Homo sapiens: one gene and its partner. The protein of the gene in region 1 purifies or fractionates together with the protein of each later gene. This does not show direct contact. Each region holds a gene or a part of one and is shown on either strand. Other genes may lie near its edges. The genes, in order: CEP85L and MARK1.

What was found.
Region 2: the proteins of CEP85L (region 1) and MARK1 purify together in Homo sapiens (affinity purification with mass spectrometry; one large-scale study listed by BioGRID and IntAct). This does not show direct contact.

Annotation. Positions count from the first base shown.
Region 1 is NC_000006.12:118,466,283-118,470,113, forward strand, and holds part of CEP85L (centrosomal protein of 85 kDa-like), read right to left. Parts: intron 3,022-3,831; coding exon 2,790-3,021; intron 1,259-2,789; exon of another isoform or gene 1,177-1,258; intron 1-1,176. UniProt on the Homo sapiens protein: Plays an essential role in neuronal cell migration.
Region 2 is NC_000001.11:220,530,939-220,534,769, reverse strand, and holds part of MARK1 (serine/threonine-protein kinase MARK1), read right to left. Parts: intron 1-3,831. UniProt on the Homo sapiens protein: Serine/threonine-protein kinase. Involved in cell polarity and microtubule dynamics regulation. Phosphorylates DCX, MAP2 and MAP4. Phosphorylates the microtubule-associated protein MAPT/TAU.

The DNA of each region.
Region 1 (3,831 bases):
AGTAGTTTATTGTAGGCATAAGAGTCAGTGAGTGACTGTTATTTTAACAAATGTTAACTGAACATCTGCCATGATATAGGAACTATGTTAGATGTTGAAGTCAGAAAAGGAACAGACACAGTGGCTTGTTCTCGATGCTTTACATACAATTTCATAAACAAATGAACACAGTGAGGTACTGTGGGTAACCTACCACTATATACAAGTTGCAGTGGCATAAAAAAACAAACAACTAGTCCTAACTGGAGAGGTAACAGTTGCTTGTTCACTGGGTTGGCCAAACTGCAAAATGAACAAAAGTGGAGTCAGAAAGCAAAACAGTATGATAGAATTTGAGAAACCTCAAGAAAATCAGTATCTAGCTCTAAAATGGTAGAGTACAAACTGTGACAAAGGAGAGTACCAAGAAATAAGGCTATAGAGGTAGGTAGTAGCTACCTATCTTGACCACAGAGCAGTGTAGGCATTAGGAAACCAGGTTCATAGTTTAGACAGATCTGTCTGGCAACAATGTAAAATGGATTAGGGGGAGGGGATGAGAAAGATGGTTGTCAGAGAGACCAGTATAGGTGACGGGTTATGAAAACTTAAATTAAGGCAATAGTGCAATGGAGATAGAAGGGCAGGAATGTTAGATGTAGTAAGCAGATGACAGAACTGATAGCACTCAATCATCATCAACTTGAGTGATGGGCAGGGATTGGGCACAGGCGCCAGATGAAGGAAAAAGCAGAGTGGAGAATAAATTCTGGGTTCAAGTGACAGGTGAATGGTGGTGTTACTCACTGAGAAGAGGAACCGGTTCAGGGAGGGAAGGAAAGTGTGTTCTGGTTTTGAATGTGTAGAGTCTGTGATGCATTTGAAATAGCCAGTTCTAATATACATGGGAATATAATCTGGAGCCCAGAGGAGATAAATGTCTGGGTAAAGGAGATAAATGTCTAGGTGAAAGGTATGGCAGTAACAGAAAAAACAGGAGTGGATAAGATCACTCAGATAAAGTACTGAATAAAAAGAAACAAACACAAAACCAGTAACAAAAGGCTTCTGGGGATACCAATAATTAAGTGGCAGAGAAGTCCACAGAAGACAGAGACTGAGCAGTCATAAAGGCAGAAGCAGAACCTAGAGAATGATGTCATGGAAACCAAGGTAGTGCACAGTTTTCAGAAGGACAGGGTGAGTAAATGGAGCCATGAAGTGACTGGTTTTTCACAAATCAACTGGCTGGTAAAACTTTCACAATGCCAAATATAAGGTAAGGATTCTGGGGTCAAACTTTAAAGACTAGAAGGAGTATTGGGAGGTGGGCGTGGTAAGATTCACATTAGGATAGCTCTACTACTCTATTACTGAAAAACTTAACAAATGCTACCTTATGACAGTGAAAATGTAGGAGACTCTAAAGTAATTAAAAGGGTGACCAACTCTAAAATCATGAAGAAAGTGAGTTCCCTTTGTGTGTGAGCTTTGCTTCTTGCTCCCAAGAGATATTAAAGCACTCCATGTTCACCAGGCAAACTTCTCCTCTTCCTCGTCTGAGAGCGACACTGAACACCAACTACTCTGTGGAGTCTCCACAGCCCTTCCCACGTAGATTTAGTTGTTTTTTTCCTCTTGTGCTCCCACTGTCCTTTGTCCACATCTCAACTATAGCACCTATCAGAATGCTCTAATAATTTGGTTAATGTGTGGACAAGGACTGTGTTCAGGTTATCTGCATTACCAGCACTTACTTAGTGTCTGGACCATAGAAGGCATCTGATAAATGTTTACTCCGTGAGTGAATATACTTAAACATTATGTGTTTTTTCGATATCCACATTTGTGTATGTGTACAAATGTCTATGAAATGAAAGGGACATAGTTGAGCACAGATAATGTTTCATTTAACAAGTGATATACTTTGGTCAAGAGCATTATTTGATTTGCCAAAATAACTATTATGATGCAAAATGGTGGAATCTTTTTGATGAAACTAGAAACAAAATCAGTTTGTTTGAAACAAAACCAGTATTATTAACCATAATATTAGGCAGCTACTAAATACACGTTGGCCCATAAACCTTATTATATGGTCTTACTGCATTCCTATTTCCTTCCAAGTTCATTTCTTCTCTATTATAAAGAGACTAACATCCTGATTTGGAACCACGTACAGAGATGAGCGTTTCTGCAAAAGTAGCACAGAAAGAAAGGGACACTAGGATTATTACTGTGGCAGCTCCCACAATTATGTGTGGAGGAAGACAGAATTGAGGCCAAGAGTGAATGGGTGTCACATTAAGCCAGCAGGTACGCATGACAAAGGCAACAGATTTGTAGGCTGTGAAAACTGGCTCATGTGAAATCACTGGCACTCACGTGAAGCAGCTGCCATAGAACATATACTGCACTGGAAAGCAAAAATATTTCTCAAATATTTTACCAGTGGACAATATGGTTGGGTCACTTAATCTATACAACTAACACATGAAAGCAAATAGAAGGAATCATTATTTTTGGAAGAGAAAATGGGAAGTCACACCTAACTACCACTCTATTCACATATTTACAGATTCAACATAGGAAACATCACCAGGCATTCTACCAAGTGGCAGTTAATGTCAGCTATAACCCTACTCACTTCTTGCAATGAAGTAATAACAGGTATACATAAACCCACAGACTGATTCTAAGTAGGAAAAGAGATTACAAAAATAAACAGAGAAAAGGCAGTCGGAAGTTCCTGATTCATGAAGATAGGTTTCTAATTGCCACAAAATAAGGACAAGTCATCAGACACTTACATCTTATTCCCAGTAATAATGAAAGATTAGGCTCCTTGCCCTGAGCACGCTGATTAAGAATACTACACAATGCTTTCAAGTCAAACAAACAACAGGACATTTCCTTGAACAGCTGATCAATCACAGTCAAATCAAATAGTGGCCGTTTGGAAAGAACTGTCTGCTGCCTAGATTGGTCAGGTTCCTGGCCCTGATCCAATAAAGAGCATGTCTCATCTGTTTGTCTTTGGTTCTGCAAGGATAAAGAAAACAAACATCAGATTGTTAGAACAGAGGAAAGGTACTCAAAGCCATACAGGTTAACATTCTCCCCCAAGTCTATAAACAAAACGATGGAGTCATATTATATGCACATTAACCAAATTCAACTACATATATGCAGTGGGAAAAAAAACACATAGAAAAATAACAATTTAAATAGTGGAAATTGTTTCTCTGTGCCATCTGATGCTTTAGCGTATATCCAAGGGAGGAAACATAAATCCAGTCTCAGTTTCTAGGAGTCTCTCACGTAATAAGCATGTTGGTTGTGTATGTATTTTTCTTTTTTGGGCCTCAATCTGTCACCCAGGCTGGAGTACAGTGGCGCAATCATGACTCACTACTGCAGCCTTGACCTCCTCGGGCTCTGGTGATCCTCCCACCTCAGCCTCCTGAATATCTGGGACCACAGGTAAACACCATGATGCCTGGCTAATTTTTGCATTTTTTGTAGAGAGAGGGTTTTGTCACATTGCCTAAGCTGGTCTCAAACTCCTGGGGTGAAGTGATCTGCCCACCTCAGGTTCCCAAAACAAAGTATTAGGATTACAGGTGTGAGCCACCATACCCAGCCTGTATTTTTCTATAATGAGATTTATTCCAAGGATAAAAAGAACTAAAAAGTAACTTTGAACCTCACTCTGTGGTTTTTATTGTTAGTAGCAATAGTGGTTTAATTACTTTGAAACTACTTTTTGCATATTGGTGGGGGGAAGCATCTATGTTAATGTTGATAGGAACCACAAACTTCGGTGCGAGAGACAAAGAAATAACAAGTATA
Region 2 (3,831 bases), on another chromosome or scaffold:
TGATCCCATTTTTGTGAGGTATCTAAAGTAGTCAAACTCATCAAAGCAGAAAATAAGAATGGTGGTTGCCAGGGTCTGGAAAGAAAGGGAAATAGGGAGTTGCTGTTCAATATGTACACTGTTTCAGTCACACAAGATGAAAAATTTCTAGAGATGTGCTGTACAATATTGTGCCTATGGATGAAATTGGAGGTCATTATGTTAAGTGAAATAAGCCAAGTACAGAGAGACAAATATGTTCTCACTCATATGTGGGAGTTAAAAAAGCGATCTCATGAAGATAGAGAGTAGATTGGTGGTTAACAAAGGCTAGAAAGGGTTAGTAGGAAGGGGAGGATGAAGAGAGATTGATTAATGAGTATAAACATACACTTAGAAGGAAAAAGACCTCGTGTTCAATAGATCACTGAGGTGACTATAGTTAACTAATCAATTGTACATTTCAAAATAGCTAGAATAATTTTAATGTTGCTAGTATAATGAAAAGATCAATATGTAAAGTGATAGATATCCCAATTGCCTTAATTTGATTATATGAATGTATCAAATTAACACATATACCCCCAAAATATGCACTAATAGATCTAATACATATCATAAAATTAAATAAAAAATAAGACGTGAAAAAATAAAAAAATAAAATTGCCACCTTACCACCACTAAAATCTACTCCCTCCCCACCAAAAATACTGTACTGCACACTTAAAAATTTGTTAAAAGGGTGTATCTGATGTGTGCTTTTTACCACAATGAAAAAAAATTCAACAGATAGGTTAACAGGGTTATATACAGCTGAAGAAAGATCTAAACATATATGGTAACTATAGTATAGGTTATACTACAGATTGGAGTACAGATAAACAGTGAAATAGGAGGAAAAAAATAAATGACAGGTTAAACATGAAGGATAGAATGATAAATTTTCGCACATCTAACCAGAGTGCCAGAAATACTATGCAGAACAGAGGTAAGGTAACATTCAAAGACATAATGGTTGGTACATTCCCATAACTGATGAGACATATGAATCCACACAAGATAGAGACAGACAGAAAGGATCACACACCAAATAGCAGATGACTCCTGAACAGAAACAATGTATATCAATAGACAATGGAATACTACCTTCTGAGTGGTGAAAGAAATCAAACTATCAACCTAGAGTTACAGACTAAGCAAAGCTATCGTTTAAGAATTAGGGCAAAATATGTCTTCAGATCTAAAAAAGTTCATCACTAACAATCCTGCACCAAAAGAACTTCCACAGATATTCATCAGGAAAAGAGAAAATGACACCCAAAGGAAACAATGAGATGGAAGAGGAAAAATAATAACAATAATAATAACTTTAAAATCATGTGTCTAATTCTATATGAACTGGATTTTTATAAAAAAAAAAGACGTAATAATAGCATGTAGGTCAGAAGTGAAGTGACAAACATTAAATACATTTCTTCTTCCAATGTATTGCCCTGCACACCCACTTTAGAGACCACTGATGTGTACTATATACATCCACCACTGTTCAGCTACAACAAACAACAATATTAGCTGCAATCATTTCAGAAGTCTTGTTAAAACAATGAGACAAGCCATAAAGGATTTGTAAATTTGATATGAAGGGACAAGTGCAAGGCACTCCACACAGAAAACAGTAAAGGTTCAGAAGTAGGGATAGGGACGGCATACCCTGTTCTTCCTCTAATAAAGTATCTTATACCATTTCATATGCTCTTCTAAAATCTATTTTTTTTTTTAAAAAAAAGGGTTCACACTCTGTCACCCGGGCTGGAGTGCAGCGGTGTGATCTTGGCTCACTGTAGCCTTTATCTCCTCGGCTCAAGCAACCCTCCCACCTCAGCCTCTCTAGTAGCTGTGAATGACTACAGGCACACACCACCATGCCCAGCTTATTTTTGTATTTTTAGTGGAGACAGGGTTTCTCCATGTTGCCCATGCTGGTCTCGAATTCCTGGATTCAAGCAATCCTCCCACCCCGGCCCCACAAAGTGCTGGGATTAGAGGCATGAGCCACTCTTCTAAACTCTTTAAGACACAAACAAAACAAAAGAAAACAAAAAAACACTTTCTCGAAGTAACAGCATGAGTACAGTAATAGTGGAAGGTGTCAGATTTTCATTATTCACCTTGAAGGATAGAATTATTAACCTTGGGTAGGTCACTAAATTTTCTCTCTGAAGGCTTCATTCAGCCTCTCAGGTTGTAATACGTAATGTCTACCCTCACCAATGTCACCAATATATTTTGATGATAAATGAAAAAATTCAAAGGGGGTGTTACAGCACTGATTTCTTATATACTGTACTAGTCACTGTGCTGGGCACTGGCAACACAGACTAAGGGAGACAAAGTCAGGCAATTAGATGCTATGTGATAGGTACTGTGACATGTGAAGGATGCACAGAAAATCCAAGGATAGTGACAAAGGTATGCTTTCCTCTCGCTTCTTCATGCCATTAACAATGATTCTCAAAAGACAAACTACTGATGGCAACCTTAGTTACAATAGGTAATCATTATAATCACCGCCATGAATTTCAGTATGTCACAAGACTCAACATCGAGTCTTTTTTTATTAAAGGCTTTTTAGTCTAACTGAATTCAATTTTAAAACATTCCAAGAAGTAGTCAAAAGAGTTTTCTTCATACTGATCAAAATTTCATCACAGAAAGCTAGGCTGAGCATTTTTGACCCATTAATAATTAGCATAATCGGAGTTTTTCCCAAATACTAAATTTTTTTTCTTGTTTCATTAAAAAACATGTAAGAGTAATGATAATATATTATCTATATCCATGGTGGAATTATCCAAATAAAATCTAACAAAAGAAAAAAAGAGAAATCTTTTTTACTCTTTTTCTGGACTTACTGTTTATAATCTAAAATCAAACACATTTTGCATAGATTCTATTATCTGCAACACATTTTTTTTACTTTACTACAAAGTGTTTATTGCCTTAAAAGTTAATCATTGGTTGTCCTGTTGTATTTAGCCCGTTGAGGCCTATTAACAAGGCACACACAAATCTTTCATCAAAGAAAATACTCCTGAAAAAGTACACATAGACTGTTCTTAGAGAAAAGCAATTCTTTCTCATTCTACTATATATAGCAGTAGTATATAAGAGATCAGTGCTATAATATTCCTCTTTTGGGATTTTTATTTATCCTGAATATATATTAGTGACACTGAGAAGGGTAGATATTATATATTCCCAAGGACACAAAATCCAAATACGTTATATGGATGACCAAAGAAATGTTTATATTAACTGCAAACGACAACGAAATATCAAGATGGTGTTTTAAATTACTGTATTTGTTGATTTTAATTTCTAAGGAAAATAAAATGTTTTTAGTTAGTGTCCTTGATATACCAAAGGACTTAGAACCCTTTAATAGTCATATGAATATAAAAGTTTTGTAACTATTTTTAAAAATATGTCATGTAATTGAAAATGACTATAAACAAAAATACATTTTGGCTGCCATACTGGCATTAATATATTAGCTAACAAGCAGGCTTGTTACTTTATTTCATCGATGAGAAGTAAAAATGGATGATGCCATTTACTACCAACTAGAGAATAAAGAGAGTCACCAATGGTGATTTCGTAGCCATCAGTGGTGGCCTCTTTGATAAACACCTATAACACCTATAAACCAATTTAGCCCTATTTACACAATGTCTTCTACCATACATTACTTGTTTGGGATTATTATCTCTTCTGTAAGCTCCTTGCAGGGAGAGACTTTATCTTAAACACTACTTCTATATCCCCTTCCCAACCCTTTACCTAAAAAATGAA